3 linked regions of the Homo sapiens genome follow. The protein of the gene in region 1 interacts with the protein of each later gene in a biochemical or structural test. Each region holds a gene or a part of one and is shown in the gene's direction. Other genes may lie near its edges.

Region 1 (7,562 bases):
GTGAGACTCTGTCTCAAATAAATAAAAACAAATCAATTTAGTTCTATTAGCATGTAGTGAGAGTCCACTATAGGGCAGACTGATATCAAATTTCATGGTATAGTCAGCTTTCTAGTACACTTTATGTACTTCTTAAAAAGAGGATAGGCCAGGCACGTGGCTCATGCCTTTAATCCCAGCACTTTGGGAGGCTGAGGCGGGCAGATCGCCAGAGGTCGGGAGTTTGAGACCAGCCTGGCCAGCATGGTGAAACCCTGTCTCTACTAAAAATACAAAATTTAGCCAGGCATGTTGACAGGTGCCTGTAATCCCAGCTACTCAAGAAGCTGAGGCAGGAGAATCGCTTGAACCCGGGAGGCAGAGGTTGCAGTGAGCCCAGATCATGCCATTGCACTCCAGCCTGGGCAACAGAGTGAGACTCCATCTCCAAAAAAAAAAAGGATATAAAGTAGGAACCTAGATTAATTAATTTGTAGACCTTATGCCCATGCTAAAATTAAACTTTCTAGATCCTATAGGACAGAAAATATAATTTTGTTTGCTCTAATTTTTTTAAATTTAGACCTTTAATTGGGATAGACAGCTCAACAGTCCCACAACTCCTTATTATCCCCAACAGATTTCCTTCACCCATTTACATTAGCTGTATCTAACCCCTGCAAGTATTTGAGTTTCAGCCTCCGAAATCTAATCACTTTATTTTATAATAAGAAAACGAATGGTCACAGAGAATAAATAACTTAGCCAAGGTTACCAGCTAGCAAGTGGCACTGAGCCAGAGTCAAAATCCAAGTATAGTGGCTCTTTGTAAAAGGCAGTGTTTTCATCTTACTATATTTTCATTCTCTTTTTCAGAACCTAACATTTGTCTGAAATAAGGACCCTCCGTAATTTTTTTTAGCTTTCAAAAGTGCCTCGTGGCACTTACAATTTTTATTCATATCCCAAGTTTCAAAATATCATTAACAGATTAAGCACTTTACTACATGCTATTTTGGTGTTTGCACTACTCCCCCGCCTTTCCACTGCCTTTTAGCTGCTCTGAGAGCTGGTAAAGAGAGACGAGAATTATACAATTACATAAGATAAAAGAATGAAAGGTTTAGAGAGGTGAGTAAGAATGAGGGGGTGGTAGGGTCGTGGGCGGGAATAACTGTAGAGGAAGGACAAGGAGAAGGAAAAACTGAGACAGTGGTTCCTGAATATCAAAGACAGGAAGAGTTGAGAAATAAAGACAGCCAGTCATCAAACACTGTTCTTTTATGGGATGTGCTGATTCTGTGTGTGTGTATGTACATGTGTATATATATATACATATATATGTGTGTGTGTGTGTGTGTGTGTGTGTGTGTGTGTGTGTGATTTGCTAAGTCCACTCAAATTTTAGGCAGATTTTTCCCTTAGGCTCATGTAGCCAGTCCCACAAAAAATTATGAAATAGGCAAAACTTATCTTGAAATTCTCCTTTGTACTTTCTTCCATTAAACTGTATTACAAAATGCAGTGCTTTTTTTCTCTGGTTCACCCCAGGCTGAAAACTGGCTCTCTTTGACACTTTAGTTTTAAACCTAACTCTCTCCTGGAGTATTTACATTTGAAGTCCCATCTCTTAATTGTTGAGTAAAAGAACCTCTCTTAAAGGAATTGTTTAAATATCAGTAAGCAGAGAGGTTTGGAATTACTAGAGGGTAAAGGAATCCTTCCTAGAGAATCTCTAATTTCACAACCAACTGTGACTTTAAGAGGTCCAGCTTGTTCATATCTAGCCTAAGTACTCAGCATACTCAGCTCTCTAGGTTACGTTTTAAATTGACAAAAAAGGTACAGAGAGTCTGAGAAGGCAATAACAATCACCAAGCAAACTGGTACATTCATCAAAAGTTAACTAAGGAATGCATCAGTGAAGACATTCATTCTAAATAAGCAGATATAATCCCTGATTTATATTCAATTATTGGTGATTAAGGTGAAGTAGCTTTTCTCATCAATTTATCTACTTAATTATTCAGTAGGGATGTGGACTTTAACCAATTTATGAACAATATCTTATTTCTCTTCATAATTGAGAGAAGCACCAGTAAAATAAGCAGAATTTCCATAAACTGATCAACTGAGATCACTAAAACGTTGATTGCTGTAAACAAAATAATAAAGGTCAATAGAAAAATTGAAGTTTACCCAAACTTTCCAGATTCTGCAGCCAGACTGCCTGGTTTCAATTTAGGTTCTGCCACTTACTTGCCTCAATTCCTTATCTATAGACTTGAAATAATAATAGTACCAAAATCATGTGATTGCTGTGAGAATTAAGTTAGTATTTTAAAGTGTTTAGAACCATGCTAGGCACTCTGTAAGTGCTTGCTAAATAAAATACTATAATTTTATCTCTTTCCTGACTCTGATGGCAGTTACTTAGGTCTACAAAACGGCTCCATAAATCTGATGTATAATTCAAATTGGCATTGAATTTACACGTCTATATCCAGTTAACCTGCTGCCTTGAGCATGGTGCAAGTGAAGAAAATATTATTTTACTTCATTGTATGGTTGTAGCTGTCAACACTTCAAAAATGCATTTTCTCTTAAGGGAAAGTGGACATTAGGGTATAAATGATTTATTGCTACTTGGTTATGTTATGTTTATACAATGAAGGAGAGCACAGTTTTGCCTTCAAAGCCCCTAACACCTTTTTTCAATAGCTTTATTGAGGTATAATTCACATACTGTACAATTCACCCTGTCATCAATAAACAATACTAGTGTTTATTGAATGGCTATTACGTCCCAGGCAATAAACACAAATTGTTTCATTTAATCTTCATAAAAATCCCTTAAGGTAGGTATTATTATACTCAATTTTATGATTCAATTAAAGGGCAAGAACTTTGCAGCTAAAGGTTGAAGTGAGGTTTGAACTTACATCCATGTAGCTCCAATATATGTTTTCCATATTCTGCAGCTTCCCTTCAGAAAATTACTTTGTTCTCTTTCAGAGAGTGACTGGAAAAAGGGGGAAAATGTGACTTTTAGAGGGTAGCCGTGGTTAGAGAAACTCTTAATCTTTTAACCTGTCAGGAGAAAAGCCAGAAATAGCAGTCACTGAAAGTTGTTTTAAAACTCTCAATTCAAGGTTGGCATGATAATGCAAAATAGTATTATTACGCAGAAATAAGCAATCATAATCATAATACTGATATACACAAATCATAATGCCAATATACACTACTTTCACTTGGATTCAGCACTTCCTACTAGCATAACTACACCTACCTTTATCGCATTCTCACCAAATGAGTTAGGGTTTAAAATGGGCAAACGAGAAATGATGTGGGGATTCCGGCCCATCTTTTAGACTTTTCACATCAATATGGTATGTTAAAATCACACCCCTGGACATCATGCTCGGGAATACTTAAGTAATTTTGCCACAATTCATTTACTAAACAAATATTTAGGTAATTTTTACATGTCCATCAGTACTGTGCTAACCACCAGGTGTACAAAGGCTAAAACAAAAGATGAACCCAGTTCCAGCTCTTAAAGAGTTTACATTTTAGTTCAGGCTTTCAGAAGGAGAGGCAGTGAGTGTGCTATACTGTATAGCATGTGGGCTCTTGAACCAGCCTCTCCACTCACCTCTCCACCTGCTGTGTGACCTTGGCATTTGATTTTTAAGCGACTCGATTTTCTATTTTGTAACATAATCGTTGACTTCAAATTAAAGACATATCTAGTTTCATTTCAGGTGTACGGCACCATACGAAGATGGGGCTAAGAAAATGTTACTATCCTGTATAAACAAGAGGGTTTCTCGCACGTTTTCTTCCTTTAGTATCTGGCATTATTCAATACTGTCCATATTCTACTCCCTGTTCACCGATGAACTGGGACATGTTTTTCACTGCAGCTTAGTCGTCTGGGTGTGCCTGGGGAGGCGTCACAAAGAGCCTATAAAGGGTCCCCACCTACAACGGGAGTAAGAGCGCTGGAAGGAACCCAGGAAGGGCATGGAGACCAAGCGTTCGGTTTCGGAGTGTTTTTTGTGTGTGCCCATATTCACCGAGCTTGGGTTCTCCCACTCGTAACGAAAAGCCCAGTCACTGAGCTGCTACATTTTCTGCCATATCTTAGCCGTCCCCACGCCCCCACACCACCGCCCCACCCTACCTCACCCTCAAGCGTGAGTGAATGCGCAAATAAGGGTTTTCAAGGCGTCAGTGGGAAAGAGGGAGGGGAAGGCAACGCTGAGGACGGGAGGACAGGGCGGTGGCATCCCTCTAGCGAGAGAGAGCCAGAGCCCTCGGCGGCGAGGAAAGCTAAAACCCGGCAGTCCCGGGCCAGAGGAGGCCAAGGCAAGATGCTGGACGGGCGGGGACCGATGGGGGGCAGCAGACCATGGCCGCGCACCCAGTGCGCCCCCGGGGCCTCCTCTTGTCCCGAGGAGCACCCCCGCTCCCGGTGTCTTTTGGTTTCGACCGGCCGACTGGGAGGGGCCGTGGGACGCCATTCCCATAATGCTCTGGGGCGTGCCGCCGCCGTCGCTGCCACCTCCCCTACCGCTAGTGGAAGAAGATGGCGGAAGGCGGAGCGGCGGATCTGGACACCCAGCGGTCTGACATCGCGACGCTGCTCAAAACCTCGCTCCGGAAAGGGGACACCTGGTAAGAGAAAGGGGTTGAGATGCCCGCGGTTGCCCGAGGATAGTGGAGAAGTGGGCGGGAGCCGCGAGCTGGTTCTTTCGCTAGTGACAGGTGCGGGCAGGTCCGGCGGCGGCCGCCGGGGCAGCGGGATTTTGGCCGCTTCTGAAATGTTGGGGCAAAGGTTGGACTCTAGATGAGGGTCAGGGTTCTTGGCTTGCCAGGGCATGCTGAAAGGTATCCGGGGAGCGGCGGCGGCGGCGGTTCTGACTCGTGCGGTTCTCTTCGTCCTCCTTCCTTCCGTAGTGCCGCTCCCACCTCAGGCCTTCCCGAATGATAGGTTATAGTGGTTTGGTTTGAGTCTTATATACGCCGTTTTGACAGGTCCCGGTGCCGCGGCTTATCACGATCTCACCGGCTTTACTTCTCTGTTCATTTCCTTTCCTAGAATTGTCGGCGTCCAAGTTCCCTTTTATTCTGATTCTTGGTCTTCCGGGAGGCAGGCTGCAGGATGTTTGCGGTCTGTACTACACAGGTGGCATGTCAGGGCTCCACATAAGAGAAAGAAACCCTAGTTTCCAGTTCCTTGTCAAAGGAGGGAGAGGAGTAGGGAACCTTGGGCTTATGAGAGACCACGTGGTCTTGTGCTTTAGTGGTGGCTTGATAGAAGCCGGCAGCGTTTCTGTTAGACGTGCAGCCCTTCCCTTCTGTTTGAAAGATAATGTAGGCCTGCAAAAAGTAGATAAGTCCACTTGAGGCTTAACTAACTGCTAATATTCAAACTTGTAAAATACCAAAGGTTATACATTTAAAATACTGAAGGATGTATGTGGACATTTTCACACTTGTCGACCATATCAAGTGGCATCTACAATAACTTAAATATGTGAATATGTAACATAATTTAAAATTCCTTATTTTTTGGGAAGCATAATGTGCCTCTTCATTATAATAAAACATATTTTCACTTTCCACTGTTACCATAACAGTAGTATATAATTCATAGAGTGTTTCAGTATGGCATAGTGAAAGGAACAGTAAGATTTAGACCTGAGTTATGTCACAGTTTCACCACTCAACTTGCAGTATGGCTTTGAGGAGAGTTAATTTAAATCATTGCACCTCATTATCTTCATGCTGTAAAATGGACAGTAATTTTATTATAAGGATTTTATCTTGATTCGTTTTAATATCTTAAGAATTTCATATTTATGAGATATCAAATTTTAGTTATCCTCTTATCTCTGCTCTTTACTCCTGACAAAAGGCTGTGATATTGGGATCATTTTCAGTTAAGCTAATAGGTGGCAGACTTAGGACCTTAATTTAACCTTGATCTAAGTCTTAGTCTCTTTTTTCTTTTTTGGTAGGCTATATACTATGTTTGTATGATAGAAATCCCTAAGGATGTAAATACATACTTGTTTCATTATATCAAAAAAATAGAATCTTCAAGTGACTTAATAATAGTTATTGTTGGCCTGGCAGGGTGGTTCACGCCTGTAACCCAGCACTTTGGGAGGCCGAGGAGGGAGGATCACTTGAACTCAGGAGTTCCAGACCAGCCTGGGCACCATGGTGAAACCCCGTCTCTACAAAAATACAAAAAAATTAGCTGGGCATGGTGGCACGCCTGTGGTCCCAGCTACTCAGGAGGCTGAGGTGGGAGGATTGCCTGAGCCTAGGAAGCGGAGGTTGCAGTGAGCCGAGATCCGGCCACTGCACTCTAGCCTGGGCAACGTGAGACTCCATCTCAAAAAAAGAAAAAAAAAAGTTATTGTTTTTATTATAATGTTAGATGTTTATTACTGTGGGGAAATTGGACATTTCCTAGGACACCCATGTTTACCTTGGCTTGTGGTAATGACAAATAAGTCCCCGCTGGCTATTGTAAGTTAAAGAACATTTAAAAATTCTTAATTCACCCAACCTAGTACCACCTTATTTTAAAAAGTGAATTTCCTTAAAATAGAAATCTGTAAGTCTATAAGTTAAAATATAAGTGTTATTGTCTCTCATTAATGTCACGTTTTTGTATATAGAGTAATTGGTAGCATTGACACTACAGGATGATAGGAGCAATATGTGCATTGTGGGCGTTTAACTTTATGAAGTTTGGTATTTTCAAATAAGTATATTTTTGCTTTTTTACAAAATTAATGTAAATTGTTTTATATATGTGCGTGTGTGTGTGCGTGTATAGCTGTATAGGTACAGTGTCTCACTATATTGCCCATGCTGATCTTGAACTCCTGGCTTCAAGTGATCCACCTCAGCCTCCCAAAATGCTAGTATTACAAGTATGAACCATGACTAAATACAAGAGGCTCATAAATTTAAGTCATTTCAGTGCTTTTATTTTAAATAAAAGTAAACTGAGGGCCACATATTTAGATAAAAGCAGATTGTGCAAGTTTATCCTCACGTTAATTTTCTCTTAAAGGAAAAAAACTGCAAGAGAAAGATGGTACTGGGAGTTGCAGAAACCAGTTTGGTTTATTTGTGAGCCAGTTTATTTGCAAATTAGCAAGTGAAACCTGTCCAAAAACAAAGTAGTAGAGAGCAAAAATTTGATTCAGAATTTTAAAGAGAATAATTTGATAAGTATAAATTTGATGATGAACTTACAGGTACAGAACTGGTGGTGATATGTAATAATTTAGTTTATGTTTTTGGAACTCACTAGAAAGTTGTTTTTCCTTTTAATATCTTTTTTTAATCTTTGAATCAGGTTATTTGAAATTTGCCCTGTGGAATATTGTCGTGGCATATGTATGTAACTGTCTAGGAAAGACTGATTGGGCTGTTGAGAAAAAATGGTGGGTTTACCATAAGTTTATTCTTGAAAGTTTAATACACATGTCTGAAGTTATAGTCATATGCATCACAGTGAATAAATTTCATTTACTAGCTTTTGAGCACTT
Region 2 (7,000 bases), on another chromosome or scaffold:
TGAGTGCAGTGGCACAATCTCAGCTCACTGTGACGTCTACCTCCTGGGTTCCAGCAATTCTCACACCTTAGCCACCCAAGCAACTGAGATTACAGGCGCGTGCCCCCATGCCCAGCTAATTTTTGTATTTTTAGTAGAGACAGGGTTTCACCATGTTGGCCAGGCTGGTCTCGAACTCCTGACCTCAGGTGATCCGTGCACCTCAACCTCCCCAAATGCTGGGATTACGGGCGTGAGCCACTGCTCCCAGTCCCACCCTTTGGATTTTATCACTTCACCAGAGTTAGTCACTGGGGGATTTTTTTGTGTGTGTCATCTATTGATTCAGTGAATTCTTTGCCAAATATTTATTCACAGCTAACTTTGTACTAGGCACTATGCTTAGGGCTGCATTCTGAGTAGTGAATGGGGTAGATATGGTCCCTGCTCTCACAGAGCCTATAGTCTAGAGGAGAAAGTAAACAATTAAGTAATTATAGTGAAAGTTGGTGCTTAAAGAACAACATACCATTGGATCAACTCCACAAGAACCTGGTTGATAAACCAGTTAGCAGTTTATTAACTTACACTGAGGGTACTAAGGTTGTTTGGTTAGAACACCCTGTCCTTTGGAGAGTGTTAGATAAACAAGCTTGTGCTTTTTGTGTTGCTTCCCTGTAGGTTTTGGTCCCTTGAAAAAAGTTCACTGTTGAGGTGCTGTGTTCCTTGGTCATACTGTGGTTCTGAGGCTGTACTCTTGTTATGTAGGCATGGCTTAGGTGATCCAAAATATCCCTTTGCAGCCCAGGTTATCTTTTAGAATGGGGTGGAGCCTGTGTTTGTTAGGGATTGCATTCAGCAACCAAACTACAAATGGCTTAAACAATAGGAATTTAGTTTTTCTCATGTAACAAGAAGTCCAGACCTGGACAGTTCAGGGCTTTGCTGTTTTCCTGCTCTGCCATTATTGGTATGTGGCTCTTCATAGTTACGATACTGCTGCCCCATATCTTCAGAAAAGAAGAAGGGGCAGCTTGTAGGGCAGAGTATAAAAGGTTAGTGTCGGCCAGGTCCAGTGGCTCACGCCTGTAATCCCAGCACTTTGGTAGGCTGGGGCGGGTGGATCATGTGAGGTCGGGAGTTCGAGATCAGCCTGACCAACATGGAGAAACCCCGTCTCTACTAAAAATACAAAATTAGCGGGGCGTGGTGGCACATGCCTGTAATCCCAGCTACTCGGGAGGCTGAGGCAGGAGAATCGCTTGAACCCGGGAGGCGGAGGCTGCCTTGAGCCGACATCGCGCCATTGCATTCCAGCCTGGGCAACAAGAGCGAAACTCCATCTCATAAAAAAAGGTTAGTGTCAGCTGAGTTTGAGTCCCCTCCTCTATTTTTTTTCCTTTTATTCTGAGAAAAATGCCTTTTCTTTTTCCTTTTTTTTTTTTTTTTTTTGAGAGGGAGTTTTTTTGTGGTAGAATTCTGGCCACTGAGATATAAGTAGAAGTTTACTGAGGAGGCCTTTAGAAAAAGTATTTCTCTCGACTGGGCACAGTGGCTTACGCCTGTAATCCCAGCACTTTGGGAGACTGAGGTGGGAGGATCACCTAAGGTCAGGAGTTCGAGACCAGCCTGGCCAACATGGCGAAACCCCATCTCTACTAAAAATACAAAAATTAGCTGGGTGTGGTGGCAGGCGCCTGTAATCCCAGCAAGCAATTCTCCCGCCTCAGCCTCCCGAGTAGCTGGGACTGCAGGCGCGTGCCACCACACCCGGCTAATTTTTGTATTTTTAGTAGAGACCAGGTTTCACCATGTTCGCCAGGCTGGTCTCGAACTTCTGACCTCAGGTGATCCGCCTACCTCGGCCTCTCAAAGTGCTGGGATTACAGGTGTGAACTACTGTGCCTGGCCTAATTTTTTGTATTTTTAGTAGAGACAGGATTTCTCCATGTTGGCCATGCTGGTCTTGAACTCCTGGCCTCAAGTGATCTGCCCACCTCAGCCACGCAAACTGCTGGGATTACAGGCGTAAGCCACTGTGCTCCGCCTAATGATTAACATTTTTATTGAGGAACTACTATGCATCAATTGTGTGCTAAGCACATTATGTACACTTGCATCTAATCTCCACAACATTCTCTTAAGGGAAATGGTCAGTAGGCAGTTGGAGATTTGGGAGTTTAAGACACTGCTTGTGAGGCAGTTACAAGTTACTTAACCTCTTTGAGTTTCAGTTTCTTAATTTGTAAAATGGAAATAATAATACATACTTCGTAGGTGTCTTATGAGCCTCAGACATCGTTTGTGTGAACTGCTTAGTTTATAATAAGCCCTCAACAAATAGTAACTCTAGCTATGGATGGTGGTGTTGAGAGGACAAAAATGGCAAGGACACAGGCTCCTTATTTTTATTTATTTATTTATTTGAGATGGAGTTTTGCCCTTGTTGCCCAGGCTGGAATGCAGTGGCGCGAACTTGGCTTGGGGCGATCTCAGCTCACCGCAAACTCTGGCTCCCGGGTTCAAGTGATTCTCCTGCCTCAGCCTCCCGAGTAGCTGGGATTACAGGCATGCGCCACCGCGCCTGGCTAATTTTGTATTTTTAGTAGAGATGGGGTTTCTCCATGTTGCTGGTCTGGAATTCCCGACCTCAGGTGATCCGCCTGCCTCGGCCTCCCAAAGTGCTGGGATTACAGGCTGGGATTACAGGCGTGCGCCACCGTGCCAGGCCTGTTTATTTATTTTTGAGGTGGAGTCTCATTCTGTCTCCCAGGCTGGAGTGCAGTGGCACGATCTTGGCTCACTGCAACCTCTGCCTCCTGAGTAGCTGGGTTTACAGGCGCCTGCCACCATGCCCGGCTAATTTTTGTATTTTTAGTAGAGACGGGTTTCACCATGTTGGCCAGGCTGGTCTGGAACTCCTGGCGTCACATGATCTGTCCGCCTCAGCCTCCCAGGGTGCTGGGATTACATGCATGAGCTACCACGCCCAGCTGACACAGTCTTCTGAATCTGCCAGTCCTGCCCTCCCTGATGCCTTCTGTGAGGTTTTGGAGAAAAATAGGAGCACAGACAGGCCCAGTGAAAGAGACTCTTAATTTCCATCTGGGGCTTTGGTTACAAACTTGGTGGTGTACTGCAGTCTGGTAAACTGTGGTTTATTAGAGTCAGAAGACTGGCCTGGGCAGGTCCAAGTAGCTACCTTTGTCCTTGGCCTCACTTCAGTTCTTTGCTGTGTTTGGCATAGGGGTAGAAGTAAGTCTGCGCATGGTGATGTGCCCCTATCATCCCAGCTACTGAGGAGGCTGAGGCGGGAGGTTCGCTTGAGCCCAGGAATTCAAAGCTACAGTGAGCTATAATCACATCACTGCACTCCAGTCTTGGTGACAGAGCAAAATCCTGTCTTTAAAAAAAGAAGGGTGTGGCCGGGCCAGGTGGCTCACACCTGTAATCCCAGCACTTTGGGAGGCTGAGGTGGTTAGATCACCTGAGGTCAGGAGTTTGAGACCAGCCTGGCCAACATGGTGAAACCGTCTCTACTAAAAATACAAAAAAATTAGCTGGGCGTAGTGGCAGATTCCTGTAATCCCAGCTATTCAGGAGACTGAGGCAGGAGAATTGCTTGAACCCGAGAGGCGGAGGTTGGAGTGAGCCGAGATCGTGCCACTGCACTCCAGCCTGGGCAACAGAGCGAGACTCCTTCTCAAAAAAAAAAAGTAAAATAAAATAAATAGTATACAATTCATTGGTTGGTTATTTACTATTGGGTAAAAAAATAAACAAACAAAAAGTATACAATTGGCTGGGCATGGTGGCTCATGGCCTGTAATCCCAGCACTTTGGGAGGCCGAGGCAGGTGGATCACCTAAGGTTAGGAGTTGGAGACCAGCCTGGCCAACATGGTGAAACCCCATCTCTACTAAAAATACAAAAAATTACCTGGGTGTGGTGGTGGGCACCTATAATCCTAGCTACTCGGGAGGCAGAAAGCAGGAGAATCACTTGAACCTGGGAGGCAGAGGTTGCTGTGAGCCAAGATCGTGCCACTGCACTCCAGCCTGGGTGACAGAACGAAACTCCATCTCAAAAAAAAAAAAAAAAAAAGTATACAATTTAGGGGTGGGTGTGGTGGCTGATACCTGTAATCCCAGCCCTCTGGGAGGCCGAGGTGGGAGGATCACTTGAGATCAGGAGTTTGAGACCAGCCTGGCTAATGTGGTGAAACCACATCTCTATTAAAAATACAAAAATTAGCCAGGTGTAGTGGTGCGTGTCTTTGATTCCAGCTACTAGGGAGGCTGAGGTAGGATAATTGCTTGAACCCCGGGAGGCAGAGGTAATAATGAGCCGAGAGTGTGCCACTGTACTCAAGTCTGAGTGACAGAGACACTCTGTCTCAAAAAAAAAAAAAAAAAAATACAATTCAGTGAGTGTTAGTATATTCACAGGGTTCTTCAACCCTCATGACTGATTCCAGAATGTTTTCACCACTCCAAAAAGAAACGCCTTATCCTTTCTTGGTTACTTCCCATTTGTGATTTAGGCCTGTGTACTGGTGAAGCCATCCTCCTGGTTGAGTTAATTGTTATGTATGGTGTGAGGTAAAGGTTCAACATCATTGTTTTGCATGTGGCTATCCAGTTGTCCCAGCACAATTTGTTGACAAGACTGTTCTTTCCCCATTGAATCTTCTTGACACCGTTGTTCAAAATCAGTTGACCAAAGATGTGTGAATTTCTTTCAGGGTCTCAATTCCATTCCCTTCATCTGAATGTCTATCTTTATGCTAGCACCACTCTGTCTTGGTGCTACCTTACTCTAGCAGGAACCTTTTTATAAACAAGATGAGGGTCCAGCTTTACCATTGGAGGATATAAAAGAATATGGACTTTTTTGCCTAAAGCAGTCCTGTTTTTCCTCTTCTTTTTTTTTCTTTTTGAGACGGAGATTCGCTCTTGTTGTCCAGACTGGACAGACTGGAGTACAATGCACAATCTCGGCTCACAGTAACCTCCGCCTCCCGGGTTCAAGCAATTGCCTCCTGAGTAGCTGGGATTACAGGCATGCACCACCATATCTGGCTAATTTTGTATTTTTAGTGGAGATGGGGTTTTGCCATGTTGGTCAGGCTGGTTTTGAACTCCTGACCTCAAGTGATCCACCCGCCTAGGCCTCCCAAAGTGTTGAGATTAGGCGTGAGCTACTGCGCCCGGCGTTTTTCCTCTTCTTGCTAATATTTTACCTTTAAAAAAATATGGCCAGTGAATATCATTGAACTCACCAACTTACAACAATATAGTTGTTATATTGCTGTTATTCCTAGATAGTGAGTTCTTGAAGACAGGGTTTATGAGTTTGTATTTATGCCTCGCACAGTGTTTATTACATGAATTGATTTTTTTTTTTTTTTTTTTTTGGAGACAGAGTCTCCCACTGTCGCCCAGGCTGGAGTGCAGTGGCGCCATCTCAGCTCACTGCAAGCTCCGCCTCCTGGGTTCATGCCATTCTCCTGCCTTAGCCTCCCTAGTAGCTGGGACTACAGGCGCCCACCACCACGCCTGGCTAATTTTTTGTATTTTTAGTAGAGACGGGGTTTCACCATGTTAGCCAGGATGGTCTCTATCTCCTGACCTCGTGATCCACCCACCTCGGCCTCCTAAAGTGCTGGGATTACAGGCGTGAGCCACTGCACCCAGCTGCATGAATTGATTTTTTAAAAGATTTTTAAAGTGGACTCATTCTGTTACATGGATCCTTAATAAATGTTTAAAAAAATTCTAATTATATCAGGAAAAGTTATAGGGTGGGTCATAGTGTAATCACATCATTGGGAAGAGTAGGGGACAAATAATGTAGATAAAATGAGGTTTTTAGAGGCAGACTGGGGTGAGAGTAAAATGTTTGGAATAGGAGTGAGGGAAAGAATTGTTTTTCTACTTTTTTTTGAGACAGGGTCTCGCTGTCTCTCAGGCTGGTGTGTAGTGGTGCAATCACAATCACAGCTCACTGCAGCCTCAACATCCTGGGCCCAAGTGATGCTCTTATCATAGCCTCCCAAGTAATTGGAACTACAGGTGTGTGCTGCCATGCCTGGCTAATTTTCTTTTTCTTTTCTTTTTTTTTTTGAGACAGGGTGTGGTTGTGTCACCCAGACTGGAGTGCAGTGGTGCGATCTCGGCTCATTGCAATCTCAGCCCCCGGGCTCAAGCAATCCTCCCATCTCTTCCTCTCCAGTAGCTGGGATTACCTGGCTAATTTAAAAAAATTGTACTGGCCAGGTGCAGTGGCTCACACCTGTAATCCCAGCACTTTAGGAGGCCGAGTTTAGGAGTTTAGGAATTAGAGACCAGCCTGGCCAACATGGTGAAACCCCATTTTTACTGAAAATACAAAAATTAGCTGGGCATGGTGGCATGTGCCTGTAATCCCAGCTACTAGGGAGACTGAGGCAGGAGAATCGCTGGAACCTGGGAGGCAGAGGTTGCAGTAAGCCGAGATCACCCCGCTGCACTCCAGCCTGGGTGACAGAGTAAGACTCCATCTCAAAAAAAAAAAATTGTTTGTAGAGATGGGATCTCACTATGTTGCCCTGGTTGGTCTCCAACTCCTGGGCTCAAGCAGTTCTCCTGCCTCAGCCTCCCAAAGTGCTGGGATTACAGGCATGAGTCACTGCACCTGGCTGAAAATTGCTTTTCTAGATATGTCCCCTGTTATTATGAAAACAGCAAGCAAATATTCTCAATTTATGGGATAGTCTCCATTTCAAATATTCTCATCCACTGTAGATCTCGTGCTTAGATTCTTGGTTCCAAAATCATCATCTCTGCCCCTGTTGTTTACCAGGGAGTGTTTGCCATTGTGGAGATGGGGGACGTGGGTGCTCGAGAGGCTGTCTTGTCACAGTCCCAGCACAGCCTGGGAGGACATCGCCTGCGTGTCCGCCCACGGGAGCAGAAGGAGTTCCAGAGCCCGGCCTCCAAATCCCCCAAAGGAGCGGCCCCCGACAGTCACCAGCTGGCCA
Region 3 (4,193 bases), on another chromosome or scaffold:
TGTCTTCCCTTTGCTTGGCCACCCTTACAGCCTCTTGGATGGTGTATCCTACAGTGTAAGCACTAAACTGAAGAGGCAGTGACCTGAGCACTTTGGATTTTGTTCATTGTAATCAATTCCATGACAAAATGATTGCATGAGAAGGAATTTTAAATTCATAGGATCAGAATTTAGGTGAAAACAACCAGCATATTTGTTTCTTCACCCTCTCACCTAGAATTAGCTTTGACCTACAGGTCACAGTGCAATCCCCTTGTATTTCTAAGGTGTTTTTTATAGTTCATTTGCAGACAATGGGTTATGTGATAACTTTTATCAGTGATAGATTAAACAGAATAATGACCAAGCTTTCAACCTTAAGGAGTCAGGCCAGTATTTACAAAAGGAGGTCTCCATGAACTCCTTAAATATGAGTTCCCCTAATATCATCTTGCCAGGTACTAAATAACAACTGATAGCACAAGCTATAGGGAATTTGAAAGAATTCCATGGATGGGTGTTGTCTAGGGCCTTTTGTTGTTTTTGAGACGGGGTCTGACTCTCACCCAGGCTGGAGTATAGTGTGGCGCAATCTTGGCTCACTGCAACTTCTGCCTCCCAGATTCAAGCGATTCTCCTGCCTCAGCCTCCCAAGTAGCTGAGACTACAGGTGTGCACCACCATGCTCAGCTAATTTTTGTATTTTTAGTACAGATGGGGTTTCACCATGTTGGCCAGGCTGGTCTTGAACTCCTGATCTCCCAAAGTGAGGTCTTGAACTGGTCTTGAACTCCTCCACCTCCCAAAGTGCTGGGATTACAGGCGTGAGCCACTGCACCCGGCCTAGGGCCATGTAAAAAGCCAGATCTGTGCTGCTGTCTGTGTAGAAGGGTAGACAAGTGGATGAGAAGTTCCTGAACTATTCTTGGCCCTTTTACCACTAAGTGAAAGTAACTTGCTGCCCCAAAGAAAGATGTCTCATCATTCGACAGGACTTTCTAGTTGAACTTCATGAAAGCAAGAGATCCTGTTTTTCTTGCTCACCACTGTATCTTGAGACCTGTTGTAGTGCCTGCAATACTTATTTAATAAGTTATTTTTAAGTATCAGTTTTGTGAGCTTTAACTCTATGAGGTCTTTGTTGTTTGACTGTATTTTAACTCTGGCCATGACAGCAAGACAAAGTTCCATTTTTATTGAGCTTAAAAAGAATCAAGGCCAGGTGAAGTGGCTTACGCCTGTGATCCCAACACTTTGTGAGGCTGCAGCAGGAGGATCTCTTGAGCCCAGGAGTTTGAGACCGTTCTAGGCAATGTAGTGAGGTCCAGACTCCACAAAATAATTTTTTTTTAAATTGCACGCCTGTAGTCTCAGCTATCAGGAGGCTGAGATGGGAGGATGACTTGAGCCCAGGAAATTGAAGCTGCAGTGAATTGTGATTGCACCACTGCACTCCAGCCTGGGTGACAGATCAAGACCTTGCCTAAACAAAACAAAACAAACAAAACCCCAAAAAACAAATTGAAAATGTTGATTCTTTTTACTACAAACATTATGGCAGCACTAAAAACTTCGTGGGAGTGTACTGTGGAAAATAGTGTACTTAATTAATTCTCATTGTAATCAGGCTACCAAGAGCCTTGTGTTGCTTTAAGAGTTATAACTGCCAGGCACAGTGGCTCATGCCTATAATCCCAGCACCTTGAGAGGCCGAGGCAGGTGGATCACCTGAGATCGGGAGTTTGAGACCAGCCGGGCCAATATGGTGAAACAAGCTGTGTCTCTACTAAATACAAAAAATTAGCCGGGCGTGGTGGCACATGCCTGTAATCCCAGCTGCTTGGGAGACTGAGACAGGAGAATTGCTTGAACCTGGAAGGCGGAGGTTGCAGTGAGCTGAGATTGCAACATTGTACTCCAGCCTGGGCAACAAGAGGGAAACTCCATCTCAAAAAAAAAAAAAAAGTTGTAACTGAGGCTGGGCATGGTGGCTCATACCTGTAATCCCAGCACTTTGAAAAGCCGAGGCAGGTAGATCACTTGAGCTCAGAAGTTCGAGACTAGCCTGGGCAACATGACAAAACCCCATCTCTACAAAAAATACGAAAAATTAGCTGGGCGTGGTGGCATGCACCTGTAGTCCTAGCTACCTGGGAGGCTGAGGTGGGAAGATTACTTGAAGCTGCAGTGAGCCATGGTTGTGCCACTGCCCTCCAGTCTGGGCAACAAAGTGAGACCCTGTCTCAAAAAAACAAAAAAAAATTATAACTGATGTAAACTGGCAGTTTAGGCTGGGTGTGGTGGCTCAAGCCTGTAATCCTAGCACTTTGGGAGGCCAAGGCAGGTGGATCACCTGAGTTCAGGAGTTCGAGACCAGCGTGGCCAACATGGTGAAACCTTGTCTCTATTAAAAATACCAAAATTAGCAAGATGTGGTGGTGGGTGCCTATAATTCCAGCTACTCAGGAGGCTGAGGCAGGAGGATCGCTGGAGCCAGGGAGGCAGAGGTTACAGTAAGCAAAGATCACTCCACTTCACTCCAGCCTGGGCAAAAGAGTGAGACATATCAAAAAATAAACAAATAAATAAATAAATAAGTGGCAGTTCATCATTTAACTCCAAAGACTTTGCGTACATTTCTACTGAAAACAATCTGAGCTGATTAGAACCCTGCCATTTTATAGCCTTTAGCTCGATCTCCGACCGTTCATTTAAAAAAATTCTACTTCAGGCCGGGCATGGTGGCTCAAGCCTGTAATCCCATCACTGTAGGAGGCCAAAGTGGGCAGATCACTTAAGGTCAGGAGTTTGAGACCAGCCTGGCCACCATGGTGAAACCCCATCTCTACTAAAAATACAAAAATTAGCCGGGCTTGGTGGTGAGCACCTGTAATCCCACCCTGCCGAGTGGCAGGCTGAGGCAGGAGAATCGCTTGAGCCCAAGAGCCGGAGGTTGCAGTGAGCCAAGCTTGCACCATTGCACTCCAGCCTAGGCAACAGAGTGTGACTCCATCTCAAGAAAAAAAAAATTCTATTTCATTTTACAATATGCAGATATATGTCCATACACATGCATAATATAAATGTATACCATATTTGTGAGAATATGCATATATGTACACATTAGATACACAATACAAGCACAATACATATGTCTTTTGCCCAAGATACAGCATTTTGTAAAGGAGACAGGAATTTAGTAATATATGTTCCAGAAACAGTACACAAGAGAATTCGCCGAGATGAGAAAGTTGTCACTAGGAATGGGGAGTGGTAAGATGTAGAAGGTATAATTGTTCTTAAAGTTCTACTGCCAACTCTTTCCAATTAATTACCCACTCTGCCATGCTTTATGGACAGGAGGTTGTCGGACACTGTCAATTAATAAATATTTGAGCATGATACACTGCTTGGAGCTCCTCTAATATAGGAGAGTGATATCCTAGTGCATGTTACAGAGGGAGTGTCCACACAGTTCCTATTGTCATTTGATGAGTTACTTTTCAGGGGCCTTGTACCTGAGCAAGTTGTCCTCTTTTTGATGGATTTCAGATTGAGTTACCTGCATTGTCTTGAGATTGCAGCGTGTTTCCTCCACTGTACGGCGTAGTCAGCAGATCTATTAGTTAAACTCCAGTGGGCCCTCAGTCACTAAATCTATCCTCTGTGTTGAAGGCTTTCTGCATTTGCCTTTCAATAAAGGTTTAGAATAACTCCTTCTCTGTGACTCTGTTTTACTCCTCTATTGACAGTAAATTGAATCAGCATTTAAGATGTGAAAAAATTAATAATCAAATGAAATGGGGGTCAAATAGGCACTAGTTTGGTGTGTTGGGGAAAGCATATGAATGAGGGGTGGTCAAGTGAATGGTCAAGTCTCCTTTATGACCCTCCTTTTATAGCTAAAGGTTGTCACTGGCAGCACCAAAAGGAAGGGGACTCCTGGGCCCATTGCTATGTATCCCAGTTTATTCTCAAATGATTTTGTGAGCTGTTTTGGTAACTGTTTAAATAAGGCTACAGAATGAAATGTAGTATCACATTGTGGGAGGAGAGGGAAAAGGATTCCTTTTTTCGTTTTTTGGAAGAAGTGAACACTTGCCTGGACTCTGGGAAGGAACCTGTGATCTAATTAGCTAAATTTAGAGAGACAGTACAGTAAGAGAATGCACTTTTCCAGAGCTTCCTTTGCAAGAGAGGATCCATCTCTTCAA

The links.
Region 2: of the proteins of USP15 (region 1) and TUT1, one has a biochemical effect on the other in vitro, tested with the Homo sapiens proteins (one study listed by BioGRID).
Region 3: of the proteins of USP15 (region 1) and GLUL, one has a biochemical effect on the other in vitro, tested with the Homo sapiens proteins (one study listed by BioGRID).

Annotation. Positions count from the first base shown.
Region 1 is NC_000012.12:62,255,842-62,263,403, forward strand, and holds the start of USP15 (ubiquitin carboxyl-terminal hydrolase 15), read left to right. Parts: upstream 1-4,562; 5' UTR 4,563-4,573; coding exon 4,574-4,662; intron 4,663-7,562. Other genes in the region: TAFA2 (chemokine-like protein TAFA-2), read right to left, coding at 2,922-3,001, 3,638-3,703. UniProt on the Homo sapiens protein: Hydrolase that removes conjugated ubiquitin from target proteins and regulates various pathways such as the TGF-beta receptor signaling, NF-kappa-B and RNF41/NRDP1-PRKN pathways.
Region 2 is NC_000011.10:62,581,524-62,588,523, reverse strand, and holds part of TUT1 (speckle targeted PIP5K1A-regulated poly(A) polymerase), read left to right. Parts: intron 1-6,822; coding exon 6,823-7,000. UniProt on the Homo sapiens protein: Poly(A) polymerase that creates the 3'-poly(A) tail of specific pre-mRNAs. Localizes to nuclear speckles together with PIP5K1A and mediates polyadenylation of a select set of mRNAs, such as HMOX1.
Region 3 is NC_000001.11:182,377,598-182,381,790, reverse strand, and holds the end of GLUL (glutamine synthetase), read left to right. Parts: 3' UTR 1-3,693; downstream 3,694-4,193. UniProt on the Homo sapiens protein: Glutamine synthetase that catalyzes the ATP-dependent conversion of glutamate and ammonia to glutamine.